Regions from separate parts of the Homo sapiens genome. Here region 2 is linked to region 1. The links come from fine-mapping of genetic effects on gene expression. Tissue or cell type: whole blood. Region 1 holds a variant in brackets; the other region holds the start of a gene. All regions are shown on one strand. Distances are between the middles of the regions.

Region 1 (8,184 bases):
GCAAGTTTATTAGAGAAGTGAAGAAATAAAAGAATGGCTACCCGATAGGCAAAGCAGCCCCAAGGGCTGCTGGTCGGCTATTTTTATGGTTGTTTCTTGATTTTATGCTAAACAAGGAGTAGATAATTAATGAGTTTTCCCGGAAAGGGGTGGGCAATTCCCAGAACTGAGGGCTCCTCCCCTTTTTAGACTATATAAGGTAGACATTGCCATGGCATCTGTAAACTGTCATGGCACTGGTGGGAGTGTCTTCTAGCATGCTAATGCATTGTAATTGGCGTATAATGAGCAGTGAGGATGACCAGAGGTCACTTTTCTCTCCATCATGGTTTGGGTAGGTTTTGGACAGCCTCTTTACCGCATCCTTTTATCAGCAAGGCCTTTGTGACCTGTACTTTGTGCCAACCTCCTATCTCATCCTGTGACTTAGAAAGCCTTTATTTCTAGGAATGCAGCTCAGTAGGTGTCAGCCTCATTTTACCCAGCCTCTATTCAAGATGGAGTCGCTCTAGTTCAAGCATCTCTGACAATTTTGATTGTCTACTGTTGGCCGGGCATAGTGGCTCAAGCCTGGAATCCCAGCACTTTGGGAGGACAGGGCAGGTGGATCACTTGAGCTTAGGAATTTGAAACCAGCCTGGCCAACATCGTGAACCCCCCCGTCTCTACTACAAATACAAAAATTAGCCAGGCTTGGTGGCAGGCACCTCTAGTCCCAGCTACTTGGGAGGCTGAGGCAGGAGAATCAGTTGAACCCGGGAGGTGGAGGTTGCAGTGAGCTGAGATCGTGCCACTGCACTCCAGCCTGGGCAACAGAGCAAGACTCCATCTCCAAAAAAAAAAAAGTCTTCTGTAGGGATACAAATGATTGAGTTTCGTATGTTCATCTCTACACAAGAAGCTATAGGATGAAATATCAGAGAATAAATTTTAATAACCAAGGTTGAATGGACAGAGAAGGCCAAAAAGTTTCAAGGAAAAGCAAAGCACTTAGAAACGTTTCCTAGTACATTTTCAACCACATTTCAAACGTCTCCTACATAAAGCAACACAGGAGAATTTTCTATCCAGTGGTGGCCAAGGTTTTTCTCTTCCTGTGGGCATGCCATCTTCCTCACAAAGAACCAAAAATACACAACTGTGGGTCCGCTTCCTCCACTCACTGCCAACCCACCCCCTTGTTTTGCATTTGATGCTGTGAAGTTCAGAGTTAACTTGCTTGGTCAACCATAGCAAGCTTGCAGTGCATTATCCGTATTCTCTTCTCCCACCTACCTGATTCGGTTTTCGCTTTTGTTCATGTTTTAAATTTGGGTTTCCTATAAACTCCCAGGAAGCAAGGCAAGGAGGGAGAAGAAAATATTTCTAAGTATCTGGGACACTAGTTGGTACAAAACAGGTTCGAAGGAGATTGTTCCTTCACATTCCTGAGACTCCCAAGGACAAGGTCAATCAGATCTGCTCCCCTTCTCCCTCCCCGCTCCCCGCTCCTGCCCCCAGCCTAGGTTCAGTGGAGACCATGTTATCCCTACTGACCGCCAGCCTTTCCGCTCTGGGGCTGGACTTCTCTCCCTAAGTCACCTCTGACTTCTCAGCCAGCAACTCTGTTCTTTCCGGCTGCCAGGGACAGACAGGACGTGAATCCTTTCATTGTAAAGACAGAAGTATTTTCTTGAGTTTCTTTTTTCTTTTTGAGTCTTTGGAAGGAGAAAAGGAAGGAACCTTCTTTCAAGGCCTGAAACAGTTTTAAAAGTTGCGTGCTCATGGCAAACAGCATTTCTCATTCTGTTTATGTGTTTTCTGCCCCACAATTCTGAATGACTCAGATGACAAAAAAAACAATCCAGGCCTGGGGGAGGGGCACCCGCAGGGGTGGTTGTTGCTTTTCATATTGTGAGGCATAAATGATACAAAATGCCAAAAGAAGCTGGAAACCAATTTTAACCTGAACTACAGGTTTGCATTTTTCCCATTTCTCTGCCTTCTCTCTGTCACCTCCATCCCACCCCCACATCCAACTTAGCTTTTCTATTGCAAATAGCAGGGCCCAGGATTTGAATGAAAGCAGAAGCTGTTTCCTCTGCTTATGATCTGCAGACAGCTGCATCACAATTTGGGCGACTTTTGCAGACTTGCCACCAATTGTGAAATAAATAACTTATCTGATTTATGCCATTTGAGTAGAAGAAAACTACGAAATAATAGATACAAATAAAGAGGTTTCTTGTTCATTTATGCACAAGAAACCTCTTTATTTGTATCTATTATTTAGTGAAGGCCATAATTAGATGAATAGCTGGACTTTAGATTTTTGTATCTTTAGGCTCGAGCAAGAGTACAATAACAAAGAATTTACAAAAAAAAAAAAAGTAATCAGGACAACCTTGTAGTAGATTTTTGACCCTTGAATAATTCAGAACCCAAAATCTACGAGAGCTACACTCCATCTGAGACAAGGAGAAATGATTCTTTCACTGCAAGAATTTCTAAAAAAATCAACTGACAAATTTTTAGCTGAAAGGGAAATCTCCCATCGAGTTTATTGAATGATAGTCATTGTTACTTAAAACAGACTCTCGTGTTCGGTTCTGATTGCAGGGTTGTGCAGTTTTTCTGTTTTTAAAACTGATGGCATTCAACGTGGCACAGGAAAGAATTCTCCCAGCCATTTTCATAATTATCTACATTTAAATTCTCCCCTTAATAAAGAAGTCCTTTTTTCCCTCAGCATCCTTATTCTTTAATAGCATTTTACCTGATTGCAAAAGTAACACCTGTGCATTGTAAACATTTTGGAAAATCCTGAAAATCACAGGGAAGAAATATACAAATCATTTGTTTCTCCAGCACCTACCAATAACTATTAATCACATTTTAATGTTTAGTCTTCTAGTCTGTACTTCTCAATATGAAAATATTCACATTCTTCACAAAAATAAGAATATGACATTTTTGCTTTTTCACAAACCATTAAAAATCTTCACCATCCTGGTTGCAAGTAGATGCCATCCGATGCTGCACCATAATTTTTTCCACGGATTCTTTCCTCCTGGGCATTTGGGCTTTTCCGGGTGGCTCCATGAACAATGGAGTTCATGGTTATAGTCATGAAGAACATAGAGTCTAATTCAACTCACCCTAATGTGACACTTCTACCCCTGTGACCAAGAATTCTCCTGGCGGGGAAAACATAACAGGAAAATATTTCACACACTTTTGGGTGAGGGTTGGCTAAACTAGACTTTAGTGCAATGATTAACATTTCAATGGTGAACTCCTCATTGGCTAGGTATACGTTCAAGCAGCCAACCAAGAAGGGGGAAAGTTCTCTCTTGAGCTTTAAACATATATTCTCTATGAAGTTACGCCTTCCCTCATTCCCTAAGAGTAAGGAAAGCTCTTTTGAACTTTTATATTCCTTTTTTGCTCTGAACTCCGTTATAATGTTTCTCTCAATTGTCCCTTTTTCCATAAAACTTTCACCCACTTTCCCCTCGGCCATCTCGATTAGCCCAGGCCCCCACAACACCGGATCTGCTCCTGTCCTGGGGTAACCATCATTATCTGTTATCTTAGGGCTATTTTAAACAAACCCCTTTTATCTTTTCTCCCAGTTTTTTTCTTTTTTCCTCCATTAGAGTTTATGTCTGATTCAACTTGGTAGCCCCACACAGTAGGCACTCAATAAATATTTGTCGAATGATTCTTTCAAGGCATCTCGGTCACAAAACTTTTTCTGCATTTAGGTCTCTCACAGGCTGGAGGCCACAGTTTAACAAAGCCAGGGCAAGGTCAGAGGGAGGCCGAGAAGGCGCTTTCAAGTTGAGTAATGAAAGGCGATGTTAATTACTGACATGGGCCATTTAGAAGGAAGAAAAATGCTATCTCTTATTAATTTTGCTGAAATGGACACACTCTTGTCAGTGGCTAATGGTTAACAAAGCCATTCTTTGCTAAAGGACAGGGCAGGAAAA[C/G]CTCAGTTACGAAAGGACCAGAGCAGCCACAGTGCAGAAACTTCCTGCCCCTACACGCCTGCACCCGCCAGAGATAACGTCTTTCACCATTTTTTCCCCATGTATAAAGTTAGACGGAAAACCATCAAGGAGAGGTTAAAAGTTGCATTTCTACCAAGATGTTTATGATGGGCTTACAGGGAAGCCAGGCTCCGGCAAAGGACACAGGAATCAAGTTTACATTTTAATGGAGGGAGGCGGGAGGTGGAAAGAGGAAAAAAAGTCAGCTTGTGGAGTGGGAATTCCTCATCCTGTTAGTGGGTAACACTAATTCAATCAAGAAGAAAGGGTTTGTTGAACAGACGCTCTCCCTGCGATTTCAGCCTGCCGGATCATCTTGGTGGAAGTTCATAAATGCGTCTGAAATGCTCCCAGCCTTTCAGTCTGAACACGCGGTTTTGGCAGTTGTGAACTTCAAGTAGACCTATTTAAGCTGATCAGAGGAAACAGGCTGACAGTGAGCTGATTAGAAACCTCTTAGGGACCCTTCTTTAAAGAGGGAAAGGAGTTATTTTTTTCCATCATCTTTAGAGACCCAGGGGTGGGTAATAAAAAAGAAAGGTTGCAAGTGGGGTGGGAGTGGGGGTTGTGGGGGAAAGGAAAACATCCATTTTAGAACACGAAGAAAAACAACTGCTTTGCCAGCCCTTTCCCAACCTCCTCGCTCTTGTCAATTTCTGCTTTGAGGGAATGTTTGAAGATAACAGGAAAGGAAATCATGAAATGATATGGCAAGGATGAGTGAGGCTTAAAGAGACGAACACAAGCTGTTTCCTTGACCCAGGCTTATCTCAAGCCTGCCAAAAAAATAACCATCTATCACAGACCCATAAATAGGTTAGGAACATGAGAGTAAAATGCTGCTTTTAATGATAAAGCGATTGGTGAGTTAGTTTAGAAAACAACCATCTCAGACATCTTAGGCTTAACAGATGCACACAAAGGTATACTTTTGTCTCCAGGGGTGGGAGGTGGGGGCAAGTTCTTGAACAAGCTGAATGTGTTTTAGGAAGCAGGAGCTCCACTTGAGAAAAGTTATAAACATGAACATTCAGAAAGAACATTTCAAAACCTCTCTGGGGAAAATAGGAGTTGCTGACAATAATACACATGCAGGGAGCGATTCCACTGCAAAATCTAAATGAGTGAGAAAGCTACCTCTTTGCTAGCCGCAAAGCCTTATCAGCAACAAAAAGTTCAGGTTAAGAATTTGCTTTCCAAACCGATACCCCACAGTTGACCTAAAATAGAGCAGGCAGTCAGGTTTCTCGTTGGGGCCCTTGAGAAAAAGTCTGCAAACCTGATCCCTGCTGAAATACTCCAGGAAGAACCAGATTCTCTGGGTTACAGCCCTTAAGATCACAATAGGAGTTTCCATTCCAGACCTTCAACTGAAAATGAAGTTTACAAATTAGCTTTGAATAAATATTATGCTTCCAGTCTCCAGTGAAGAGCCACAGCTCTGAGAGAAACCAAATTAGAAAAAGACGCGATTCAGCTCCCAAACACACAGAACCAAGCCCAAGCCAACCTAGCCTGGCATGTTTCTCTTCTTGCGCTACCAAAATAGCATGGTGATGTCATGCTTTCATTCGTCCCCCAAAACCAGCCACCCTGCCCTCCTAAAAATAGCTTGATGCACTTTTAAAGGGAAAAAAGGGGGAGTCAAAATATTTTTTGAAATAAACTTTTTTTCACTTAAACCGTCAAGCAATAAAAGACTATCTTTTCTTTCCTGTTTACTTTGTCTCCCAGACTCTGTGTGTGTGTGTGTGTGTGTGTGTGTGTGTTTCCCAAAGTCCCTCTGAAAATCATACAAGAAGGAAAAGCCTTTTCCAAAATAATTTATGTAGTCTGACTTCTGAGGCCTTCTCGTGTTTGTAAATTTTCTCTTTGTTCTTTGCCAGTGAATGAACCAGACTCAGGATTAACCAAGGACTTATTTAGGAGTCCTCTGAAAAATATAAGCATATTTGTAGGGAAGAGGACCGACTTAAAGAGACTGCTAGACATCAGGGACATAGATCAGTGATTCTCGAGGCTGTTTGAGCCTCCAGACACTTGTAACACTTTGAGATACGAAAGCTTTGGACTCACTAGGGACCTGAAGAATCATTTAAGTAAGGCCCAACCATCTGCATCATTCAAAAGAAACCCAAGGTAGCCATGTGTGGGGGCTCATACCTGTAATCCCAGCACGTTCAGTGGCTGAGGTGGGAAGATCCAGGTCAGGAGTCTGAGATCAGCCTGGGCGACATGTGGAAATCCTGTCTATACTAAAAATACGAAAAAAAAAAAAAAAATTAGCCAGCCATGGTGGCAAGTGCCTATAATCTCAGCTACTCAAGAGGCTGAGGCAGGAGAATTGCTTGAACCCGGGAGGCAGAAGTTGCAGGGAGGCAGAGGTTGCAGTGAGCCAAGATTTTGCACCACTGCACTCCAGTCTGGGCGACAGAGTGAGACTTCATCTCAAAAATAAAAAAAAAATAAAAGAAGTTAGCTGGGCATGGTGGCATGCACCTGTAGTCCTAGCTACTCAGGAGGCTGAGGCAGGAGGATCACTTAAAAGGCCAGGAATCCAAGGCTGCAGTGAGCCATGATCATGCCACTGCACTCTAGCCTGGGCAACAGGGCAAGAAAAAGGAGTAGGGAGCTTGGAGGGAGGTGGCGATGGTTAATGGGTACCAAAAAAAAAAAAATGAGTAAGACATACTATTTGATTGCACAACAGGGCAACTATAGTCAATAGCAATTTAATATACATTTCTAAATAACTAAAAGAGTATAATTGGGTTGTTTGTAACACATAGGATAGATGTTTGAGAGGATGGATACCCCATTCTTCATAAATTGCCTGCCTGTATCAAAACATCTCATGTACCCTGCAAATATGTACACCTACTATGTGCCCACAAAAATTTTAAAATACATTTTTAAATTAAAAGGAACCCAGGTGACTCCGAGGCTTATTCAGCATTAGGAAGCACCCATCAGACTTGGCATGAAGGCCGATGTTCCAAAGAGCAAGCTCTCATGTCCCTCTCCCCACACCAAAAAGCAGTACCTTGTCCCAGCTCTTCTGGACACAGCCAACACCAGCTATTCCAGCTAGATTCATGATTTCAGAACATCCCTTAAAGTAACTTAGCATCTCTCCCACTTCCTTCATTTCTCATAAATTGCTATAGGTTGCCTTTGATCTCGGAGTAGACTCCCTATAAAAAGGAGGCAAAGTAACTGAGATGAAAAACAAACTTTGCCCAAGAATCCAATAAAAGATGAGTGGAGAGGGTTGCTGCCAGAGATAGGAGATTTCATTCACTAAGTCTTAAGACAGAGGCAGGGTAATGGTTAATCACTTGTTTGAGTCAAACTTACCCCCTAGTTAGGAAGGCTGGCTGTCATTTACCTGAGGGTTACATTAGAACAAAAACAAGTCCAAAAAAAAGATGGTTTCTAAGAATAAAAATATCTCTCTTTCTGGGGTCTTCTTAACTTTGTCAGAGTGCTTCCACATCTATTGTCTGTTTTTATAACTAATCCCGTAAGTAACTACATATTTGTTTGTTTTGTTTTCTTTTGAGACAGAGTCTCACTCTGTCTCCTGGGCTGGAGTGCAGTGGTGCGATCTCGGCTCCCTGCAACCTCCGCCTCCTGGGCTCAAGCAATTCTCATGCCCCAGCCTGATGAATAACTGGGATTACAGGTGCAGGCCACCATGCTGGCCTACTTTTTCTATTTTTGGTAGAGATGGGGTCTCACCATGTTGCCCAGGCTGGTCTCGAACTCCTGGCCTCAAGTGATCCACCTGCCTCAGCCTCCCAAAGTGCTGATTACAGGCGTGAGCCGCCGCATCCGGTGATATTTGTATATAAGATCTATTAACCAGCCTGTAATCCCAGCACTTTGGGAGGCTGAGGTGGGCGGATCACGAGGTCAGAAGATCGAGACCATCCTGGCGAACACAGTGAAACCCTGTCTCTACTAAAAATACAAAAAAATTAGCTGGGCGTGGTGGTGGGTGCCTATAGTCCCAGCTACTCGGGAGGCTGAGGCAGGAGAATGGCATGAACCCAGGAGGTGGAGCTTGCAGTGAGCGGAGATCGCACCACTGCACTCCAGCCTGGGCTACAGAGCGAGACTCCGTCTTAAAAAAAAAAAAAAAAAAAAA
Region 2 (8,184 bases), 130 kb after region 1:
TTTAGAAAACATTGCAAAACTATCTGAAGAAGCTTACAAACGCATTTGTTTACAGACTGTCATTACTGAGATGTAATGGCCTTTTAATGTCTTCAAAATGTTGAAAAAACAGGCAAAACCTATTATGTAGACAGACATCTAATGCTCAGACATAAAAGCCACTCAATCAAGATGCATCTTTGCATCCAGCCAGGCTTCTCCCTCTGGTGTCTCTAATTACATTAACAACAAAATCAATAGCAGACATACAAAGTCGTGGCTGTCACAAGTCTATAGATCAGGCAGGCATTCTGGTTAGAAACGGCTTCCACCTACCTGAGGCCTCACCCCTGGGAGGAGAGAGAACATCGTGCAGCCCTCTGTAATTGCACATGTCTTCATGACAGCATTCCAATGTGGGTATGGTGGTGCCAGAGTGGTTTCGGGCCTGTTTGGCTTGGCAGATGTCTGTCGTGCTTGCAAGAGAGTCCAGGCAGCCATGGGTGAGTGGGGAATTTGAGTTCTGAGGATCAAGAAGTCTAGAGAAGCAGGCGCTGAGCTCAGATTTACACATATAACCAGTGGCTACACAGTGGGCAGCATCACAGTAGCATCGAATTTCACCTGAAAACAATGAGAAACCACCTCAAACTCTGCTCCAGAGACCAGATAAAGCAACTATTTAGGCAACTGCTAAATCCCAAATTCAAAGGCATGAACTTTTAGATCATCCAAGCTGAGGGCTCCAGTCTACAGAGCCTGGAGAAGCCCTTCCTGCAGCCAGTGCGTAAGTTTCAATCCAGTTAAACGTCATTTTGGCAATGTAGTAATCCCAATAGCAGGTTTCTGAGGAGTTTAGAGTCATTTTAAAAAAACTTTTGCTTTTTGAAGGAAATAGTAATGAGTATAATTTCTCCTACCATAAGGTATAACACATTATTTATTCATTTTAATCCTACATGACCATACAACATAAAAATGTTAGGCTTTTTGATTTTGTCAGTATAAATATTTGATCGGAACTACTGAATTGTTTACTATCCCACAGGACTGCACCAAGAGTTAAGAGCTTTAGCTAACACCTTATAAAGTTATTAACTAGAAACACAACAATCTAGAAACTGCCCAGGTCAGGAGGTTTTAAAACTATGAAACTAGGCAGCTATTTGCAACCTCTCTAGAAAAGGCAAACTTTTTGCCTATAAAGATCTTTTCATGCAGAGGAGCTTTTAGTCAGTATATTGTAAAACAGGAACTAGGCAGTTTACAATTAGTGGTTTGCTTGCCAAAGTCAATTTCTTTCAGCCCAAATGGAAAGTCATAAAAGGTGGGGGGAGTATAAAACTGCAAGGCTAACTTCTCCTCCTCCTCCTCACAAGTTTTACATGTAATTCGACATGTGATCTAAAAGGGGAAACACTGAAACTGAAAATCCTCTGCTGGTTGAATGAAAAATCCTTAAGGAAACCTCAAATTTTCTACAGGAAGTGATTAAAAGTTTCCTTTATAAAAACTTATTTTGTGAGTTGCATGGCTCCGTTCACATTTTGTCGCAGGGCAAGATTGGAGGCTTTAATATCAGTTTCTCGTTGAAATAATCTGGGTCTTCAAGTTCTCACTAATACAATATCCACCTAGTGGACCCTGGTCGCTGTCACATGCCACAGCGAGTAAACTAAACTAATGCACACGCCTCTTCCAGTTTCCCGTCTGAAGATCCGAAACCTCCACTCTGAAATTAAACACCGGGATCTGCTGTTTTACAAACCTCTTCCCACCCTTACCTTTATTCTTCCCCCTCTCTCTGAACGCCCCAGTAAGGTGTCTCATTTAATTATCTGTCCAAATTCCAGACCACGGTATTGTATGCTCAGTTTTCACCGGACGCTGCTAATGCTTCGGTTCTAAGGAAAACCAGCCCGCTAAACACAGATCTTTGGCAACCCTTAACAGTCCAAAGCTAGGGGTCTTGCTCCTAAATCTGCACTGGTTGGGCCCAAGTTCCTTCTCTGCTTCAAGTAAGAACCTTGCTTTGCAGAACCACTTCTCTGCTCTTTCTCCTCCTCCCTCCAAGCTCACTTTATTTTCCACATAAAGCTCACCAGTCTTCTGGGGTGATGACTACATATCCCTAGTTTGACAAATTCCATATATAGATTTAAAGTATAAATAAAACAGATTAAAAGCCCATTTTGACCCTATTAGCTTCAGACCTTGTACAGAAAAGGAAGACTGAATACAAGTAAAATGCTGCTTAAATGTTTATGAGAGCCTATTTTCAATGACCTAAAAACAGCCTAATAAAATTTTGACAGGTAACTGGGAAAGTTCTAACTACCTTTTTTTTTTAATTGGAGCCACATTTTAAGCAAGGAGAATGGACTTTTGTACCACTGTATTAAAACTATATTTCTGTCGTTCATAAAGTTTCTTCCTGTGGCATGCAAAAGGCCAGAAAGGGGACTGGTATTTTGAAACTGTGGAACAATGCCCTTCTGTTTCTGTCCCCTTCTCGTTACTGTATGTAGTGATTAAACAAAAATGTCTGCTTTAGTCAAGATGGCTACAGGAGAGACTGCTGGCTTCTTTTAAAGCTTTTGAAGTCCGCAGCCGTCAGAAATCTCTGATCCCCTAATTATATCATTATCAGGCACATAGTTTCGGTATCTGTGACTTCATGTCAGCCTCAGTCCCTCCCTGTTCTGCCCGCCTTTGATAGGGCCAGGAGGCTCCCCTCTGCAAGCCACAAGGGCTGTTATTTAGGGTTAATTACACCCTTCCTTCCAAAATAAATAAATACTGTAGCACATCATCCTCGCTGGGCTAGCTTATGCTTTAACCTCATGCCTGCTACATAGCAATTAAAGAGAAGTAGGGGGCTGCAAAGACTAAACTGCTTCCTACTTAAAAAAATTATCTGTTCACAGAACAGTAGGTAGATTTCACAGCAGGGAGGTGAGGAGAACCTTGAAATTCGGAGACAGTTCGGGTTATTTCTTTCTAAAAGGTGAAAGCCTGCAGAGGAAAGAAGAAACTGACCCGCTGCCTTTTTTTTTTTTTTGGTCCTGTTTGTAAAATATGAGGTGAGTGGCAGTGAGACGCTGACAGAGCCTACTCCTCCCGGCTGCTGAAAAGCAACACAACACACACTTCTGCACACCTCGGACACCTAAACTCTCAGGGAGACCCACACACTCGCTCGCACACAGAGAGATGTACGCAGAGACACACTCACACAGAGACTCAGATGCACATTCAGAGATACAAAGACACTTAGAGACAGACACAGAAATGCATTCAGAAAGACACACTCAAGATCAGAGATACAGAGACTCACACATTCAGAGACACAAAGACTCAGAAAGAGACACAGAAATGCATTCAGAGATACATTCAAAGAGACACAGAGATACGCTGAGTGATACAGAGGTTCAGACACACTTTCAGAAACACAACGACACTCAGAGACACAAAAATGCATTTAGGGATACTGAGACTCAGAGACACACTCACAGAAATACACCCTGAGGCACTCACACAGACACGCTGAGGGCACGCGGCAGCTACAGGCCAGGATCTGCGATTCCTCCCGGCCGCCCGAGCCCCCAGGGTGCGGAAGCGGCGGCGTCGAGGCCGAGACTCCGGCCCCGCTCCCCGCTGGGCTGCAAACGCGCCGCTCCCCGCAGGCAGAGCCAGGAGGACCCTCTGATCAGCGCCTGCCCTTAGATCGGAGTCCGCATCCACGCGCCAGGCCACCGCCGCGACTTCTAAGAACACAGCAACTTGTCGCGACCTGCGGCTCCGGCGCAGGAGGGAGCCTCGCCTGCCGCTAACAAAGCCTCTGCAGCCGGCTCCAAAGCCCCGCGGCGAGGACGGGACCCCGGGCCCCGTGCGCCCCCGGCACCCACCTTTGGTGAGCAGCACGGCCATGGCGCAGAGCTCCAGCTGCAGCCAGATGAAGATGTAGCTGGAGTGGCGATCCATTGACGCCCCGCACGGCCGCGGCGCCCCCGCCGGCTTCCGGAGCCCCGGCTCGGCGGCAGCCTACGACCCCCGGAGCGCGCAGGGCATGGGCCCTGCCCGGAGCGGCGGGCGCCGTCAGCGGCGGGGCTGGGTTTCGGGCCGCTGCCGGAGCATGGAGCGCGGCTACAGGGCGCGCCCAGGAGCCCAGAAAAGTTTCCCGGTCCCCCGTCGGCGGCCACTGGCTCCCTTGCCCCGCTCGACTCTAGGGACGCACGCTAGCCCCGGGTCGGGAGTGGGCTCCCGGCCTTCAGTCCCCGCTAGCGGCCGTTCTCAGCGAAGAGAGTAGGGTCTCCACAGCACGCAAGGGTATCCGCCGCAGCTCCCGCCCGCGCCAGCCCAGGTCTCTCCGGCTCCGCGCCGTAAATAGCGCCCCGCGCCGGGAGCCGGCCTGCACCGCCCCGCCTCGCCCCGCCCCACGGCGTCCGATTGGCCGCCGGGCTCCTGTCAATCCGCCCCGCAGCGGGGGGCGGGCCCAGACGCGAGCGCTGGGGGACCTGCCCGGCGGCTCCGAGCGGCGCCGGCGTCTGGGGCGCCCGGCTGGGGCGCCCGGCTGGTGCGCTGCCGTCTCCCGCGCTCCCCCTTGCGGAGGCCTGCGCGTCAGTGACCTTCGCGAGGCGCCGGGGGAGCCCAGCCCCGGGACCGGCTCGGGAACCCGCCTCCGAGACCCTGACGGCTCAGCCTCGGGTGGTCAGCGTTCCCCAGCGCGGGGCTTCTTTTGGGTGCCCCCCGAAACACGCAGGGGGTCCGTGTGGTCGTCCTCCCCGGCCGCACTGCGTTTTCTGGAACCCCCAGGGGCGAGTGACAATGCCCCGGCCTGTGCAGGTGGCGGAGGAGGGTTCGGGTGGGAGCCCGGGGGAGGCGGCCCAGCGCTGGGGTCTGCATTCAGCCTTCGCCCCCCACCCCCTCAGCGTGTCCGCCTCGAGCTGCCCGCCATGGGATCAATAAAGCCCAGACAGACTGACTGTTGATCCGTTAGGAGCCGCTAGGTTCTCCCGGGTACGCGGGACGAGTAGCGGGCTAGAGACACTTAACGAAAATTAGCAAATCCAAAAGCACCCGGCGCCAACGAGACGACACTGGCCGAGACTGACACTCAATTAACCACCCCCCAAACAATGGCTGGCAAACACGCCGGCTGACCCTGATCAATATCAGCCCCGCAGTGATCTCCTCCTTGAGATGCTAATTCATTTATTAGGGATCGCGGGGCTGCCCTTCCCAAGGTACTCAAGGTGGTCTTGCTGTAGTTTTGTTTCCCCCTCCGCTTTGGAAGGAATTAAGGTTAAAACTCATTATCTGAGGGAATGTTCTTTTATCCTCTCCCTCCAAAACCTGAGATGAACAAAAGTCGACCATTTGCAAAATTCTTCTTGAGAATCTGCCAGAGCTTCCCTACCGGATATGTCAAAAGGGGGTGGGGGGTGGGGAAGGAAAGAAAGAGAAGCACATTTCATGCTAAGGTGAGAATTATAAAGACAAATCCTTTAGGACTAGAGTGCAGACATGAGCTTTGAGACTAAGAAAAATGTACATATGTCTTGAGGACTGAAAGTCAAGGCGAACATATCTCAAACGCCTAACCTTTTAAAGTTGTTGAAAGTCTGCAGAGCTGCAGGATGTAGTTAATGAAATTGTCTTTGAAAAATAATGTTTATGTGCAGAAAAATAAAATAATTTCATAAACTGATGCTCAGACCATTACTTCTCTAGATCAAAATTGCATCTAAAAGGAGAGAAGGAGAAATCCAGTAGAAGTTTTAAAAGAAAATTAAACTGGTTAGGGCACCAGGTAAACAGCAGGTTTCTCAGAAAAGTTTCTCAAGGGGCGTGCTGACAAGGCAGTCCTGGGGCCGAGTTTGATTAGAACTTCCTGGCTACTAGAACCTTGACAAGTTAACAATTGTAAGGGTTTTATGCAGACAAGACTTTTTTTTTTTTTTTTTTTTTTTTTGAGACGAGTCTGGCACTGTCGCCCAGGCTGGAGTACAGTGGCGCGATCTCGGCTCACTGCAACCTTCCGCCTCCCGGGTTCAAGCCATTCTCCTGCCTCAGCCTCCTGAGTAGCTGGGATTACAGGCACCTGTCTCCACGCCTGGCTAATTTCTGTATTTTTATAGAGACGAGGTTTCGCCATGTTGGTCAGGCTGCTCTCGAACTTCCGACCTCGTGATCCGCCCGCCTCGGCCTCCCAAAGTGCTGGGATTTACAGGCGTGAGCCACCGCGCCCAGAGGACAATACTTTTTATGTAATGATTACACTCTCTTTTAGAGTCAATTATTAGCTAAAAGGAAACTTTCAGGGTATGTTAGTTCAACCTGGCCTCCCACCGTAGGCGAGGCTTGCAATGTCTGGGGGTATAAAGATGTCAGAAACTAGATAGTAAATCTCAAAACAATGGAGCTGGACAATAATGGAGATTTATGTGCATGATGTTACAATGCCTAAAAGAAAGAGGTTAACTAGTCTAGGAAGGTAAAGAGAGCCGGTAAAGTCTAGAAGCAATGACATTAAGGATTGGAAGAAGACCATTACAAGCACAGAGGACCACAGGACTTAGGCATGAAATATGATTGTGTAGGTGAGTAGGAGTGGTAAGCAGCGAACAGGTAGTTGGGATGACAAGCAAGTCTTTGTGATTGCAGCATAAAATGTGAAGAAGTGAACAGAGACGTATCAGAAATGAACTATACTTCCCTTTGATACAGATAAATATTTAATGGAAGAGGTCTGGGGAATGTGTTGGTGAAAGTTGCATTCTAGTAGACACTTTCTGAGTGTCTCCCAGCCCAAGTCAGAGAATGTCCCTTTTCCCGGAGTGGGCGTTGGCAACCTGATTAGGAGACTCTGATCTCCTAATCTCTGGCCATAGCTAGTCACATGACCCAGGTTAGGTCAGTTAGATTCTCTCTTCTGTGTCTTTGAGCAGACATGCTGCTCAGTCCCTTGAGGTCATTTCACGGGAGACATAAAAATTTTGCTTTGGGGCAGCTGTAGTCCACCTGTCTGCAGAGGAAGAAAAATAATGAAGATATGCAAAGTGGCAAATACATAAATCCAAATGGATTTCCAGGCACTCAGCGTCACTTCTTGTCCTTAGGTTAATTCAGTAACCTTAATAAAGTCCCCTTTTTACTTAAGGTTCTTTTCCTTGCAACCCAAAGAAACCAAACTAAGATATTTGTATTTTATTGAATTAATGTTGACTTTGAGCACTCCAGGTTGTATATATTTTTTTGTTCCAAGTCCAATTCTGAATAAGAACTTGGGATCCATTTTTTAGACAATGATTTCAACTATTTTGTTTTTATTATTAATGGGCAAACTTTCTAAATGACCAGAAATTAAAGAGAAACAAGTCCGCACTTTATCTAATGGTTCTGGGGAAGACATGGACTTTTCAACTAAATGAATCAGAGTGTTTGAATCAATGTAGAATATCAAAATCAGTTTAGGGATAATGTGTCAATCATAAGGCCATATCAATAGTTGAGAGAATAGGCAACAATTTTAATTCAATTTAACATTCTTAAGGAAAATTGCTTCTCTAGAGAATTTTACTTATGCTTTGCACATAATTCAGTTATTACTTTCCTACATGTAGGTTGATAAGTAGAGGGAAAAAAAATAGTACAATCTACTGTCCTTTTGAAGTTTAAAGCAAGAAATGAAATCAACGACCAAAATTCTTTTTACATCTACAAAGGGATTCCGAAAATACCTAGGAACAAGCTCTCTATACCCAAGAACAGAAAACTGATTCTAGACCTAACTGAAACCGTTAAACAGTAGAATAGTTTTTTATTACCTTCAAACAGCATTCAAGATATAATTTATCCATGGGAGATATATATGTATATATATAGGCGCGAGCCACCATGCCCGACTAATTTTTTAATTTTTTTGTAGAGATGGTGGTCTCCCTATGTTACTGAGGCTGGTCTCAGAATTCCTGGGCTCAAGCAATCCTCCTGCCTGAGCCTCCAAAAGTGCTGGGATTATAGGTGTGAGCCACCATGCTGGCCGTATAGATGTTTTAAAGATTTTAAATGATGTCTTTGAAATTATAGGCTAAACATGTAACTAAATGGCACTAAATTGTGAATGGGAGAGTAGAGAGTTACTTGCTTTTTTTTGCTTTTTTAGAGACGAAGGCCTCCCTCTGTTACTCAGGCTGGAGTACA

What was found. PIP is the estimated chance that this variant, and not a neighbour inherited with it, causes the effect.
Region 2: BAMBI starts here. The variant in region 1 is fine-mapped to the expression of BAMBI in whole blood (TOPMed, PIP 0.96).

What each region holds. Positions count from the first base shown.
Region 1 is chr10:28,804,152-28,812,335 of GRCh38, reverse strand. LINC01517 (long intergenic non-protein coding RNA 1517) reads right to left here. Exons shown (of 4, transcript NR_120652.1): 3 at 6,198-6,289; 4 at 4,117-4,446. Among named protein-coding and RNA genes, the nearest start is that of LINC00837, 12 kb to the right of the region's middle. The variant C/G (reference allele first, on the strand shown) is at 3,975.
Region 2 is chr10:28,673,677-28,681,860 of GRCh38, reverse strand. It overlaps BAMBI (BMP and activin membrane bound inhibitor), which reads right to left and starts at 4,340. Exons shown (of 3, transcript NM_012342.3): 1 at 3,888-4,340; 2 at 316-603. The coding sequence starts at 3,963. RefSeq lists silencers at 3,443-3,587, 4,313-4,872.